2 linked regions of the Homo sapiens genome follow. The protein of the gene in region 2 interacts with the protein of the main gene of each other region in a pairwise test. Each region holds a gene or a part of one and is shown on either strand. Other genes may lie near its edges.

The links.
Region 1: the proteins of IGF2BP1 (region 2) and STAU1 interact in binary tests that used the Homo sapiens proteins (3 or more experiments, as listed by UniProt).

The regions. Positions count from the first base shown.
Region 1 is NC_000020.11:49,176,985-49,186,366, forward strand, and holds part of STAU1 (double-stranded RNA-binding protein Staufen homolog 1), read right to left. Parts: intron 2,261-9,382; exon of another isoform or gene 1,314-2,260; intron 1-1,313. UniProt on the Homo sapiens protein: Binds double-stranded RNA (regardless of the sequence) and tubulin.
Region 2 is NC_000017.11:49,049,385-49,056,384, forward strand, and holds the end of IGF2BP1 (insulin-like growth factor 2 mRNA-binding protein 1), read left to right. Parts: coding exon 1-60; 3' UTR 61-6,761; downstream 6,762-7,000. UniProt on the Homo sapiens protein: RNA-binding factor that recruits target transcripts to cytoplasmic protein-RNA complexes (mRNPs). This transcript 'caging' into mRNPs allows mRNA transport and transient storage.

The sequences.
Region 1 (9,382 bases), on a different chromosome or scaffold from region 2:
CACTGCAACCTCCGCCTCCCGGGTTCAAGCGATTCTCCTGCCTCAGCCTCCCGAGTAGCTGGGATTACAGGTGCATGCCACCATGCCCGGCTAATTTTTTGTATTTTTAGTAGAGATGGGTCTCACCATGTTAGCCAGGCTGGTCTCGATCTCCTGACCTCGTGATCCGCCCACCTCGGCCTCCCAAAGTGCTGCGATTACAGGCGTGAGCCACCGCACCTGGCCCAGGGTGTTCAGTTTTCTAGCCCAAAGCAGAAGTAAAAAATAAAGGCCAGGTGTGATGGCTCATGCTTGTAACCCCAGCACTTTGGGAGGCCGAGGCAGGTGGATCGCTTGAGCTCAGGTGTTTGAGACCAGCCTGGGCAACATGGCAAGACCCTGTCTCTATTAAAATAAAATTTAAAAATTTAAGGGCCGGGCATGTGGACTCACGCCTATAATCCCAGCACTTTGGGAGGCCGAGGGTGGCAGATCCCGAAGTCAGGAGATCGAGACCATCCTGGCTAACACAGTGAAACCCCGTCTCTACTAAAAATACAAAATAATTAGCCAGGCATGGTGGCGGGCGCCTGTAGTCTCAGCTACTCGGGAGGCTGAGGCAGGAGACTGGCATGAATTCAGGAGGCGGAGCTTGCAGTGAGCCGAGATCACACCACTGCACTCCAGCCTGGATGACAGAGTGAGACTCCGTCTCAAAAACAAAAAAAAAATTTTAAAACACACATAAAAAAAGCTAAATATAAGAACGGAAAAAGGAGCTGTTAGAGTCAGACATAAAGACAATGCTAAAAAATAACCATCATCAACTTAGCAAAGAAAGAAGAGAGAGAGAGAGGGGAGAAATACAGCAGTCATTTGGATCTCAAATACTTTTACACAGTGATAGCTGAGATTCATACAAACATTCATGTTTTGGCCAGGTGTGGTGGCTCACGCCTGTAATCCCAACACTTTGGGAGGCCAAGACAGAACTGCTTGAGCCCAGGAGTTCAAGGCCAGCCTAGGAAACAGAGGAAGACCCCATCTCTCCAAAAAGTTTAAAACTAGCTAGGCATGATGGCATGCACCTGTAGTCTCAGCTACTTGGAAGGCTGAGATGGGAGGACTGCTTGAGACCAGAAGATTGAGGCTGCAGTGAGCCCTGAGTGCACCACTGCACTCCAGCCTAGGCAATGAAGCAAGACTCCATCTCAAAAAACCAACAAAAATGCACATTTCCATATGCAAATCTATTTTTTGAAATCCTCCAATTTCAAAAGATAATCCAAAGCCATCATGATCATTATCAATATATCTATATAGTGCACACTTACCACTGCAATTTTCCCCAGTCAAGAATGCATACTAAACCAGGCACCGTGGCTCAGGCCTGTAATCCCAGCACTTTGGGAGGCCAAGGTGGGCCAATCACCTGAAGTCAGGAGTTTGAGGCTAGGCTGGCCAACATGGTGAAATCCCATCTCTACTAAAAATACAAAAATTAGGCCGGCGCAGTGACTCACACCTGTAATCCCAACACTTTGGGAGGCCAAGGCAGGTGGATCACCTGAGATCAGGAGTTCAAGATCAGCCTGGCTAACATGGTGAAACACTGTCTCTACTAAAAATAAAAAAAAATTAGTCTGGCATGGTGGCACATGCCTGTAATCCCAGCTACTTGGGAGGCTGAGGCTGAACAATCACTTGAACCCGGGAGGCAGAGGTTGCAGTGAACTGAGATTGGGTCACTGCACTCCAGCCTGAGTAACAGAGCGAGACTCTGCTTCAAAAATAAAATAAAATAAAAATATAAAAATTAGCCAGGCATGGCCGGGCGCGGTGGCTCACGCCTGTAATCCCAGCACTTTGGGAGGCCAAGGCGAGTGGATCACAAGGTCAGGAGATCAAAATCATCCTGGCTAACACGGTGAAACACCGTCTCCACTAAAAAAAAAAAAAAAAAAACAACTAGCTGGGCATGGTGGCGGGCACCTGTAGTCCCAGCTACTCCAGAGGCTGAGGCAGGACAATGGCGTGAACCCGGGAGGCAGAGCTTGCAGTGAGTCAAGATCGCGCCACTGCACTCCAGCCTGGGCGATAGAGCAAGACTCCATCTAAAAAAAAAAAAAAAAAATTAGCCAGGCATGGTGGTACGCACCTGTAATCTCAGCTTATCGGGAGGCTGAAGTGGGAAAATCGCTTGAACCTGGGAGGTGGAGGTTGCAGTGAGCCGAGATCACGCCACTGCACTCCAGCCTGGGCGACAAGAGCAAAACTCCACCTCAAAAAAAAAAAAAAGAAGATAAAAAGTAGCAAATTATAGAAAGTCCCTTATGCAAAAGAAAGCTTATTTCACTTTTATTCTTTTTTATGTTTGGTGCTTGAATAAATTCTCAACTAAAAGGAAAATTACTATACAGAAGTAGTCACTTGCTAAACATTACAGGTTGCAAAGGTTTACTCAATGACAAACCAAAAGGAAACTTATTTGCCTAACTATATTTGACTGTCATCTAGGTAAAGGGTCATGGAGCTTTCATGAGCAGGTTGGTTCAATTGTGCAACAAGGAAAATAAGCTTCCAAGCATAATGAGACTTATTATTACATATAAATTGTTCTTTCTGACAGAGGAAAGGACTGCCTAGCATTCTGCATAAAATCACAATGGCTTCAGCAGACAATGGCCCTATTTGAATCAGGGTGGAATCTGCAAGGGTAGAAAATTCATGCCTCAGTTAATTGTAATCTATAGAAGGCATGGATTTCAAAACAGCAAAGATAGGAGAGAATCAGACAAGATCTAGTTAGATCCTAAAGCTCATCTCTGAAGGGAGCTAATATAGTGACAATGTAAGCAGCATTATCTGCTCACTTCATGCCAAGGGGTATTTCCAACACCTATTAGTGATTAATGAGACATGCTATGTCATTACAGACTACAGGGTAGCCTCAGTTGAGGTTAAACACAAAATGGAACTTCAGACACCATTTCACTAAAAGCTCACATCCAAAGGCAGATTTAATTTCACTGATCCAGCCTTTCAAGACTAACCATAAGAGAAGACTGCCCAGGTGGAATACCAAAGAAGCTTCTGATTCAGATCACCGTTTCAAACAAAAGTAAAACAAAATTGTTCAGGAAGCAGTTCAATTCCAAACAGGAAGCTGTACTAAATACTCCCAACAGTATTAGCCACAAGAGGGATGTTAGAAAGGGCTAGGAAGCAAAGAGGACAACCAGCACCTATCCTATAAAGTTAATTGGAAGCTTAGTTAACTCATTTCCACTAAAGCAGAATGTTAGAATTCAGAAGAAATGAATTTTTTTTTTTAGCAACAACCTGGACTACAGTTCTTTTTTTTTTTTTCCCCCCCTGGATACAGAGTCTTGCTCTGTTGCCCAGGCTGAAGTGCAGCGGCACGATGTCAGGTCACTGCAAACTCCACCTCCCGGGTTCAAGCCATTCTCCTGCCTCAGCCCCCGGGGTAGCTGGGATTACAGGCACGTACCACCACACCCAGCTAATTTTTGTATTTTTAGTAGAGATGGGGTTTCACCATGTTGGCCAGGCTGGTCTCGAACTCCTGACCTCAGGTGATGCGCCTGCCTTGGCCTCCCAAAGTGACGGAATTACAGGCGTGGGCCACCATGCCAGCAATTTTTAACAAACCTGATGACACACGATAGCAGTAATTTAGGAGCTGGCCTCCTTTAACACAAAGGTTAATAAGACAGCCCCTCCCCACACACAAACCTGTGGATCAGCTTTAAGTTTTAGCTTAATTTGACATAACAAATAAAAGTAAACTGGAAAGCTATTTCAAGGGTCCATCTAAAAGACTATTACTTAACCAGACTTTCTTTCAAATTGATCTAGGGTTCTAATGAGCAAAATTCATCCTAGCTGCTGCGGTGGGGAGAGTCAGGGGAGGGCCACCAGTGACAAGCAGAATCAATTATCCTAAACAAAAAGCACCTAAGCATAATTTAGAGACAAAGCATGGTTCAGTGGAAAGAACACTGACTTTGGAGCCAGACCAGCCTGTGCTCTAGAACTAATACTTGGTGCCTCAGGACTCTGAGCCAGTTATCTGGCCCCTCGGAAGCGCATCAGCATCCTCAGCAATTATTATGAGCTTTACGCTGCAAAGATGTTTATGAGTATTAGAAATACAACATAAAGGGTCTAAGAAACCCTTTTCTTTGGTTCAAGGAAAGAGCTAAATGAACTGCAACTTTTATATTATTAGGTAAATTCAACCTGACCTTTTAATTCCTTTTCTGCATAAAATAACTTTCACCCTGTAATTCTAACCTGGCACATGGTAAGAGCTCAATAGCAGTAAATATTATTATCCAGCAAATTCACTAAACCTGTCCTTACACATAAACATCTATAAAACTTACAGCAACACTCCACTTGTAAAAAATTTTAAATAGGATCAGAGAATATGCTGACTAAAACCAACCCACTCACTGAGCAACCAGTTCTGTAGCTACATCAAGTATAGGGGCAAGGCCGGGAACAGTGGCTCAAGCCTGTAATCCTATCACTTTGCGAGGCTAAGGCAGGCGGATTGCCTGAGCTCAGGAGTTCGAGACCAGCCTAGGCAACATGGCAAAACCCCATCTCTGCTAAAAATACAAAAAATTAGCCGGGCGTGGTGGTGCTCAATTGTAGTCTCAGCTACTCGGGAGGCTAAGGCAGGAGAATTGCTTGAACCCAGGAGGTGGAGGTTGCAGTGAGCCGAGATGATACCTCTGCATTCCAGCCTGGGCAACAGAGCAAGACTATCTCAACAAAAAAAAAAAAAAAAAAAAAAAAAAAAAAAGCAGAGGCAATCTAATGAAGGTTTAACCCTCAGCAATCATGTTCATTCAGGGGAAAAGACCCCAATGTATTTAAATAGATTTTCTTAGCCTTTATTGTCTGGGAGACATGACACAAAATTTCTATCATAATAAAATGGCCAGTTTTGCTTCCATTACTGTTATAAACCCACATAGTCATCACACTTCTTTCCCAAATTAGATTCCAGATTAAACAGATGCCAGATGGGTTACAGATTTGATATTCAGAAGACTAATTTTTAATCGAAAGCAAACACTTTCTCAAATAGATTTTTCCACTTTTGCTTCCAGTAAATATACTTTGAGGGAGTTCCCTGAGTCTACTTCTTTAACAAATAAACATATGTAATCCCAGAAAATATACAGCAATTAACAGCCTGCAGAAATTTTTCTCTACTTCCATTTATCTGGTGACATAAATCACTGTTACATCAACCTTATTCACCAGTATGGGAATGTAAACACTTAAAAAACAAATTAAGCTATTTGCAGTAATTCCCATTTTACCACTTTAAAAATATTACTTTTCTCTGCAGTAAGGTTTTCTAGTTCAGAGCATTAAGCTGTCAACAAGACAGATATCCAAGCCCATCCATCCCGTGGCATTTGATAAGATCAACACAGCTATATATTTATAATCCTATTATCTCCTTAGCAGGTGAGAACAATGGATTTGGCCAACATTATTCAAGCTTCATAATACTGTATGGTAAAATGTTCATGACAAAGAGCAGAAGGTATGCCGGGCACAGTGGCTCACGCCTGTAATCCCAGCACTTCGGGAGGCCGAGGTGGGCGGATCACAAGGTCAGGAGATCGAGACCATTCTAGCTAACACGGTGAAACCCCATCTCTACTAAAAACACAAAAAAATTAGCCAGGCATGGTGGCGGGCACCTGTAGTCCCAGCTACTCGAGAGGCTGAGGCAGGAGAATGGCATGAACCCAGGAGGTGGAGCTTGCAGTGAGCCGAGATCACACCACTGCACTCCAGCCTGGGTAACAGAGCCAGACTCCGTCTCAAAAAAAAAAAAAAAAATAGTAGACGGTGTTCAGCACCATGAAACAGGGAGGCAAAAATAGAAAGTAGATGGTATCTAAAGAGATGTACAATAAAACTTCATAAACTTTGTTATATGTTTGAAATTTTTCATAATAAAATGGTGGGGGTAAATAACCATAGCAACTAACATGTCCTCTCATAGTTCAACTGATAACTGGCAATTTATATTTTTTGGAACAGCACAAATGGTATACAGCCTTGACTCTGGTGAAGTTTTATTTAAAGAAAAGCTCATGTAGAAAATTACACGAGAAGCATTTCAACCACAAATGTCTCCATCACCAGAAGTCAATGTAAAATAACCTGTTATAGGTCTAGTGTGAAACAAATCTGTCATAAAATTCTCTAAACATTTTTGAAAGCTCTAAAATCCCATTCTGAGAGAAAAGCAACTCCAAAGCTCTTATTTGAGAGGGGAGGAATTTATATTTCCTCAAATTGAACAATTCTGTGTCACTGGGTATCACATCAAATAAGAAGATCCAATTTAGAGGCTCATGAAAACAAGGCCTCTGCCTATAATCCCAGCTACTAAGGAGGCTGAGGTGGGAAGATGACTTGAGCTCAGGAGTTCAAGACCAGCCTGGGCGACAAACTCTGGGATTGACTTGTGGAATCCCACAAAAAGATACCCTTTTCATGAAAGTTTCATCTTTATACTGAATTACACTCTTACTCAATCCAGTAAAAAGGCTCAAAGAAAGTTGCCCCACAAACTGAGACTACCTTGTGGTATTGGGGAGAGAGACTGGATGAAGCAGTATCCATTTTGATAACACCCAGAATGATATCAATGATCTGGACTTTAGAATGGGGATGGAGGAGAGTTCCATGAGTCATGGCCATTTCTAAACTTAAAATACAGTAAATCCTCTCTTAACATAAGGGGTAGGTTCTTGGAAACTGAGACTTCCGACTAACACACGCTTATTGATACAAACAAGAGTTAGGTTCTAGGGCATATTTCTCATCAGAAAAATATCACCAAACTTTTAAATAAAGACCAAACACTTCGAATATTAAACACTGAAATAAATGTGAAGTATACATGCCTTTTTTTTTTTTTTGAGAAGTACTTTTGCTCTTGTTGCCCCGGCTGGAGTGCAATGGCACGATAACCGCTCACTGCAACCTCTGCTTCCCAGGTTCAAGCAACTCTCCTGCCTCAGCCTCCTGAGTAGCTGGGATTACAGGTGCCCGCCACCCAGCCCGGCTAATTTTTTTTATTTTTAGTAGAGACAGGGTTTCGCCATGCTGGCCAGGCTGGTCTCCAACTCCTGACCTCAGGTGATCTGCCCACCTCAGCCTCCAAAAGTGCTGGGATTACAGGCATGGGGTTGCAGTAAGCCGAGACTGCACCATTGCACTGCAGCCTGGGTGACAAGAGCTAAACTCCATCTCAAAAAAAAAAATTTTTTTTTTTACCACTTATTCCAGTTCAGGGTTGGGGTGGCTGGAGCCTATCTCAGCAGCTTAGGGTGCAAGGCCGGAACCAGTCCTGGACAGGACATCCACTGCAGAAAGCACTCACACTTACACACACAGCTCCACACACCAGTGAACCTCACGTGCACAGCTTTGGGATGTGGGAGGAAATCAAGAGTACCCAGAGAAAACCCATGCAGGGATAGGGAGAACGTGTAAACTCCACAGACAGTTTTTTTTCTCAACATTATCTTGAAACAACATTATTCAAGGACCTGCTGTAATCTGTATATACATGGACTTTCTGGCTGAAACCTAAAAGAGAGCAACTTATTCTCAAGAAACTATATTTATGGTAACAATTCTCAATGCTTAAAAGTTTTACGTTAAGCTTAATGGGAAGCACTACACATTTTTAAAAATGTGTTGTGTCCTTTCCCAGATACTAAATTGGCGTTTCTTTCCTAAATCAATTTTAAGAGGTGTATCTTTCCCCATCTTCCAGGTAGTCATAACTAAAACATAACATGTAACATTTCCACTGTACCTGATCAAGCTCAAAGTACACCTACAAAACTCAAATAACAGACCTAAAAGCTGAAAACTATTCACGACCAGAAATTTGAAAGTTATGCAACAAAGACATTTATAATATTTATAATATTCCTGTCAACTTCCATTGTAAGAGAGATCCTTTAGACACAAGAAAGAAAAACGTGAACACTTATGCTGTGATTTCATACTATTCACAAAAATTAAGGTTTCATTCATATTTGCTAAATTTGTTATTTGGAAATAGGGCAGACGGGGGCACTTTGGAAAACAATTCTATGTTAGAAGATTATCTTTTGCTTAATTCTTAACCTAAGGTAACAGCAGTATCTTTACACAACTACTGTAAAGAAACATTTTAAGTTTTCATTATGAATTATTAACTGTAGTTTAACTTTGACACAAAGTTATCTCTATTAAAGTGGGTTAAAAGGCAGGTCTCTGCCAAAACAGGACTGGGGAAATCTGTATTTGTTCGCTTTTCAATTATAGTCATTAATAGCTCAAGAATTTTTGCTTTTGTACACAATAAAGCAGCAAGGTTGTATTTTGATTTTGAGGAGCTGAAGGCATTGGATCAAGAGTTAATTTTCTTCTTCTTTTCTGCTGTACAGAAATCATGTATAAACAGAGAAGGGAAGCCCAACAAACAAAAATGAGAACTATTATTCTACTAAAAGTAAATTTTGTGACCTTAATCTGGGGCAATCTGGTAAAAGTCAAAATCGCTAATGTTGTGACACAATGTTTAAGATTTGTTTCAAAATAATCTAGTTTGTGTGGGGGGATACAACATGAAACAAAACCGACCTTGGCTATGAGTTAATAATTGTCAAAGCTAAGTGAGTGACTAACACATGGGGTTCTCCATACTATTCGAGTTTCGCATGTTTTCCAGAATAAAAGGTTTTTAAAAAATGGTATTTAAAATACCATTTCCCTATTGAAATATGCCATTGTGATATGGCAGTATTAGACATGCTTTATACTGCTTGTATAGTTGTTTGCTTATGTGTTTTTTTTGTTTTGTTTTTTTGGAGAGAGTCTCTCTCTGTCGCCCAGGCAACCTCCACCTCCCGGGTTCAAGCGATTCTCCTGTCTCAGCCTCGGGAGTAGCTGGGACTGCAGGCGCCCGCCACCACACCAGGCTCAAGAGATAGTCTCCATCTCCTGACCTCGTGATCCACCCGCCTCGGCCTCCCAAAAGTTCTGGGATTACAGGCGTGAGCCACCGCGCCTAACCTGCTTATGGAGGCCTAGGAGGGTGGATCACGAGGTTAGGAGTTCGAGACCAGTCTGGCCAACATGGCAAAACCCCGTCTCTACGAAAACTACAAAAATTAACACGGCGCGGTGGCGGGCGTCTGTAATCCCAGCTACTCGGGAGGCTGAGACGGGAGAATCTTTTGAACCAGGGTGGCAGAGGTTGAAATGAGCCGAAATCGCGCCACTGCACTCCAGCCTGGGCGACAGCGTGAGACTGTCTCAAAAAAAAAAAAAAATTCAAACA
Region 2 (7,000 bases):
CAGGTTAAGCAGCAGCATCAGAAGGGACAGAGTAACCAGGCCCAGGCACGGAGGAAGTGACCAGCCCCTCCCTGTCCCTTCGAGTCCAGGACAACAACGGGCAGAAATCGAGAGTGTGCTCTCCCCGGCAGGCCTGAGAATGAGTGGGAATCCGGGACACCTGGGCCGGGCTGTAGATCAGGTTTGCCCACTTGATTGAGAAAGATGTTCCAGTGAGGAACCCTGATCTCTCAGCCCCAAACACCCACCCAATTGGCCCAACACTGTCTGCCCCTCGGGGTGTCAGAAATTCTAGCGCAAGGCACTTTTAAACGTGGATTGTTTAAAGAAGCTCTCCAGGCCCCACCAAGAGGGTGGATCACACCTCAGTGGGAAGAAAAATAAAATTTCCTTCAGGTTTTAAAAACATGCAGAGAGGTGTTTTAATCAGCCTTAAAGGATGGTTCATTTCTTGACCTTAATGTTTTTCCAATCTTCTTCCCCCTACTTGGGTAATTGATTAAAATACCTCCATTTACGGCCTCTTTCTATATTTACACTAATTTTTTTATCTTTATTGCTACCAGAAAAAAATGCGAACGAATGCATTGCTTTGCTTACAGTATTGACTCAAGGGAAAAGAACTGTCAGTATCTGTAGATTAATTCCAATCACTCCCTAACCAATAGGTACAATACGGAATGAAGAAGAGGGGAAAATGGGGAGAAAGATGGTTAAAATACATAATAATCCACGTTTAAAAGGAGCGCACTTGTGGCTGATCTATGCCAGATCACCATCTTCAAATTGGCACAACTGAAATTTCCCCACTCTGTTGGGGCTTCCCCACCACATTCATGTCCCTCTCCCGTGTAGGTTTCACATTATGTCCAGGTGCACATAGGTGGTATTGAATGCTCAGCAGGGTAGGGGCTGACCACTGTCCCTGATTCCCATCGTTCTCAGGCGGATTTTATATTTTTTTAAAGTCTATTTTAATGATTGGATATGAGCACTGGGAAGGGGACGCTAACTCCCCTTGATAAAGTCTCGGTTCCATGGAGGACTTGAGTGGCCCCAAAGGCTGCCACGGTGCCCTCACCCCAGCCCATGTGCTCCCATAAGGGCTGGTTCCTAGAGGCAGGGGTTGTGGGGCACTCCCAGCCACGGCACTGTTACCTTGGTGGTGGGACTTGGAACCCAACCCTGAGCTCCCGATAAAGCTAAAGTCCATCATCTGGCAAATTCAGTAAATTGGAGAGTACTTGCTTCTGTTTGTATCTGAGAGGAATTTTTAACTGACGGCTTCTGTCTCCATGAATCATTATCAGCATGATGAAAGGTGTGTCTAAAAAACAATTCAGAATACCAGCAGCATTGTACAGCAAGGGGTAAATAAGCTTAATTTATTAATTTACCAGGCTTAATTAAGATCCCATGGAGTGTTTAGCCCTTGTGGGAGACAGAAGCCATCAGTTAAATGAGGTTAGGCCTCTCCTCCTAATATACTGATTGACAATGCATATTAGCCAGGTAATGCACTTTAGCTACCCTGGACAATGCTATCAAGTGTGCTGGGAAGGGAGGAAGGCCTCTCTACATATGGAAAAGCCCATGCGTGGAGTTCCCCTCCTTTCAACATTGCAACAACAGTAACAACAAGACAACCGCAACATGTGGGCGTAGTCAGGCAATGCTGTGTGCGAAGTAAACTACCTCAAGGTATGAAGTTACCTCAGCAATTATTTTCCTTTTTGTTCCCCCCAACCCCATTAAAAAAATTTTTTTTTGATTTTTGTTTTTTTGCAGCTTGCTGATATTTTATATAAAAAAGAAAAGCAAAGCAAAAGAGAAGCTGATAGTCTTGAATATTTTATTTTTTTAATGAAAAGAAAAAACAAGAAAGTTATGTTTCATAATTTCTTACAACATGAGCCAGTAACCCTTTAGGAACTCTCTATGGAGAACAGGCCTGGTGGGAAAGGCTTTGGGGGCTGCCCCCTTAGGAGGAGGCTAGTGCTAAGAGGGAAGGCCCAGGTTTGAGAGAGCCCAGAGGGGCAGAGCCCAGAGCCTTGTTTGGCCCTGATCTCTGACTTCTAGAGCCCCAGCTGCTGGCGGCTGCTGGAATATCCTACCTGATAGGATTAAAAGGCCTAGTGGAGCTGGGGGCTCTCAGTGGTTAAACAATGCCCAACAACCAACCAGCTGGCCCTTGGTCTCCTCTCTTTCCTCCTTTGGTTAAAGAGCATCTCAGCCAGCTTTTCCCACCAGTGGTGCTGTTGAGATATTTTAAAATATTGCCTCCGTTTTATCGAGGAGAGAAATAATAACTAAAAAATATACCCTTTAAAAAAACCTATATTTCTCTGTCTAAAAATATGGGAGCTGAGATTCCGTTCGTGGAAAAAAGACAAGGCCACCCTCTCGCCCTCAGAGAGGTCCACCTGGTTTGTCATTGCAATGCTTTTCATTTTTTTTTTTTGTTATTGTTTCATTTCAGTTCCGTCTTGCTATTCTTCCTAATCTATATCCATAGATCTAAGGGGCAAACAGATACTAGTTAACTGCCCCCACCTCTGTCTCCCTGTCTTCTTTAGATCGGTCTGATTGATTTTAAAAGTGGACCCAAACTTAGGGAATTCTTGATTTAGGGTGGCTGGTGGCAAGGAGGGGCAGGGGATATGGGGACGTGACTGGGACAGGTTCCTGCCTTATCATTTTCTCCCTAGGACATTCCCTTGTAGCCCCCAGAATTGTCTGGCCCAAATTGAATAGAAGCAGAAAAACATTTAGGGATAACATCAGGCCAGTAGAATTAAGCCTCTCCACCTGTCCCAACCATAAAAAGGGTCTCCCAGCTTTCCATCTCTGGCTCTATATGCTTTATCCCAAAACAAAGCAGATAACGTTCAGACGTCGGCCATTTAGTAATTTAAAGCGAATTTCCAGCAGCAAGCATGCTTTGATATCTGGTTCAGACTATCATCAGGAAGAAAAAAAAATCCCACAGTACCTGAAATGTGATTGTTGCAGTGTTCAGTTTCCTTGGGGGCCTGCTCCCTTCACACCTTGAGCCCAAGTCCTTTTCCGTTGGCTGATTCAGCTCCCAGAAGAGACGAGGAAGTGTGTGGCAAGGGACTGGAAAACTTCACTTGCTTGGATTAGGCAAGGCTCCACTCATTGTTGATATTTGCCCAGCAGGAAAATCATGTAAGTTATACCACCAGAAAGCAAAAGGAGCATGGTTTGGTGGTTAAGGTTTAGTGGGATGAAGGACCTGTCTTGGTGGGCCGGGCCCTCTTGTGCCCCGTAGGCTAGGTCTTAGGGCAACTCCTTGCCCTCCTGCTCAGCACCTCCATTTCCCCATCCTTGGTGAGATAACAAGCTATCGCGAAAAGCACTTGGGAGATTTGGATGATTTGAGAAGAGTGACTTAAAAAAAATGCTTCTGTGCTCTAAGATATATATGTGTGTGTGTGTGCTACATATATATTTTTAAGAAAGGACCATCTCTTTAGGATATATTTTTAAATTCTTTGAAACACATAACCAAAATGGTTTGATTCACTGACTGACTTTGAAGCTGCATCTGCCAGTTACACCCCAAATGGCTTTAATCCCCTCTCGGGTCTGGTTGCCTTTTGCAGTTTGGGTTGTGGACTCAGCTCCTGTGAGGGGTCTGGTTAGGAGAGAGCCATTTTTAAGGACAGGGAGTTTTATAGCCCTTTTCTACTTTCCTCCCCTCCTCCCAGTCCTTATCAATCTTTTTTCCTTTTTCCTGACCCCCTCCTTCTGGAGGCAGTTGGGAGCTATCCTTGTTTATGCCTCACTATTGGCAGAAAAGACCCCATTTAAAACCCAGAGAACACTGGAGGGGGATGCTCTAGTTGGTTCTGTGTCCATTTTCCTCTGTGCCAAAGACAGACAGACAGAGGCTGAGAGAGGCTGTTCCTGAATCAAAGCAATAGCCAGCTTTCGACACATACCTGGCTGTCTGAGGAGGAAGGCCTCCTGGAAACTGGGAGCTAAGGGCGAGGCCCTTCCCTTCAGAGGCTCCTGGGGGATTAGGGTGTGGTGTTTGCCAAGCCAAGGGGTAGGGAGCCGAGAAATTGGTCTGTCGGCTCCTGGTTGCACTTTGGGGAAGGAGAGGAAGTTTGGGGCTCCAGGTAGCTCCCTGTTGTGGGACTGCTCTGTCCCCTGCCCCTACTGCAGAGATAGCACTGCCGAGTTCCCTTCAGGCCTGGCAGACGGGCAGTGAGGAGGGGCCTCAGTTAGCTCTCAAGGGTGCCTTCCCCTCCTCCCAACCCAGACATACCCTCTGCCAAACTGGGAACCAGCAGTGCTAGTAACTACCTCACAGAGCCCCAGAGGGCCTGCTTGAGCCTTCTTGCTCCACAGGAGAAGCTGGTGCCTCTAGGCAACCCCTTCCTCCCACCTCTCATCAGGGGTGGGGGTTCTCCTTTCTTTCCCCTGAAGTGTTTATGGGGAGATCCTAGTGGCTTTGCCATTCAAACCACTCGACTGTTTGCCTGTTTCTTGAAAACCAGTAGAAGGGAAACAGCACAGCCTGTCACAGTAATTGCAGGAAGATTGAAGAAAAATCCTCATCAATGCCAGGGGACATAAAAGCCATTTCCCTTCCAAATACTCGACAATTTAGATGCAGAACATTTCTCTGTATTCAGACTTAGAGTAACACCAGCTGAAAACTGCAGTTTCTTTCCTTTGGATACATAAGGCTTCTCTATCGGGGTACGGGACAGGGAGGAGGCCTCATGTCTGAAGGGGGATTTAGGGGCGAGAGCCCCAGCCCTGACCCTCGGTCCTGTGCACCGCTTTGGGGCACAGTCTGATGGCGCCTTTGCTGGCGCCTTAGTATGGTTGACTCCGGATGGACAAAAGAAAAAAAATTTTTTTTCTTGAATGAAATAGCAGGAAGCTCCTCGGGAGCATGTGTTTTGATTAACCGCAGGTGATGGATGCTACGAGTATAAATGGATTAACTACCTCAATCCTTACAGTAAGATTGGAACTAAGGGCAGGGACTCATGCATAAGGGTATGAATCCCAGCCAGGACAAGTGAGTTGAGGCTTGTGCCACAAAAGGTTTGTCCTTGGGGAACAGGCAGGCCTGCCAGGATCCCCCCCATATCGATTGGGCTGGGAGGGCTGGCCATGAGGTCCCCACTTTCTGCTTTCCTTGCCCATGTGTCACCCCTTTGGCCTCCAGCTTGTCCCTCTCTCACTTTCTATAGCTTTGTTGGACCAGATGGTGAGGAAAGGAATGGCCTCTTCCCTTCTAGAGGGGGCTGGCTGGAGTGAGACCTGGGGCTTGGCCTGGAACCCACCACACAGCCCCAAAGTCAGGAAGCCTGGGGAAACCAGAGCTGAGACCTCTTCAACAGGGTTTCTTTGAGATCCTACACCTCCATTGGGCCCTTTTTCAGTCTTCAATGGGGGCCCAGTTGGCTCTAGAAGGAGAAGAGGTGAAGCAGGATCCTTTGCCCTGGGGGAGTCTGAGGGCGCGGTCCTTGGACTCATTCAGGCCGTCTTTGTAGTTGGGGGAGTTCCACTGGGCGATCCCAGCCCCTCCCCACCCACCCTCTAATGGACCTCCTCATAGAAGCCCCATTTCACTTTTGTTTTATCTACCTCTTAGCAAAACAATAGATAAATTAGGTAGTGGCAGCTCCACTTGCTTAGGTTAGGGGGGGAAAAAGATTTCTTTTTCCAAAGGAAAAAAATATTACCTTGAGAATACTTTCCAAAAAATAAAATTAAAAAAAAAAAAACCAAAAAAAAAAATTTTTTTTTAAAAGGGAGACATTTTCCAGTGACCACTGGATTGTTTTAATTTCCCAAGCTTTTTTTTCCCCCATAAATAAGTTTCACTCTTTGGCGATTTTCTTCACTTGTTTAAGATAACGTGCTAGCTATTCCAACAGGTAACAGCTTTCACAGTCTGCCCCTGGCCTGTCTCACCCCATCCCCCACCCTATTCCTGCCAGTGAGTCCTTCCTGTGCTTCTCTCCCTTCTCCCCTCCCAGCCAGCTGACTTCAGTCACCCCTGTCCCCCCTCCCCTGCCAATAAGCTCCCCCAGGAATAAAGGCTTTGTTTTGGGGATGCTTAAATCTTGACTGGCACTTCCCGGCTGTGGGGGCTGGGGAGCCACTTGTAACATTTCTGTGCAGATTTTATGTTAGCCACTGCTATGTAAAAGCACGTTCAAAATGAATTTCAGCAGATTATGTGTTACCATAATGAATAAACGTCCTCTATCACCATTTGGAGTCTCCCTTTTCTCCAGGATCTTGATCCTGGTCCCCAAAACCAGAGTGAATCAAAAGAGCTTCCTCCCCTGAGGCAAAGTGGATTTGTAAGCAGTTCTGAAACATCACTTACTCAGAAGAGGGAACGATGTATTTTGATGAGTGCAAATTGGGAAGAGCTGGAGGCCTACTGCTTGGGACAGTTTTTTTTTTTTTTTTTTTTTTAAATATGAGTGCTAGCTTATTCTGTAATTGCGGCAACTTTGAAAATTGTATTTTACTGGAAATCTGCCAGCCATCACCACCCGATTTTGATTGTATCCTTCCTCCCATCCTTTAATCTGTTCATTGCTTTGGGGGAGGTGGGGCAGCTGGCTCACACGTTGGAGTTTGTTCTTTGATGGATGAACGAACACTCCAGTTTTCTTTCCCGTGAAGGTTGTTTCAGCCACAAACCACTTCATTTTGCTGTTTCAATTTCAAAATAAAAGGAAACTTATATTGAAAGACAAGTATGTCTGTGTCTCAGGGTTTTTGGGTCTGGGAGCTGAGATGCTCAGCCTCAGCATGGGAGCCCTGGTTCTCAGGGACCTGAGTCATCCAAATGCAAAGTAGGCATTTTTCTTAAATGTACAGAGGAGTGGTTTTTAAATGGTGCCCTGCTCTTAATTAGCTTTGCATATTGGGAGGGGGGCAGGTCAGGTGTTTGGAATGAGGACTCCAGCATTAAAGAAGATGTTGGGACATCACT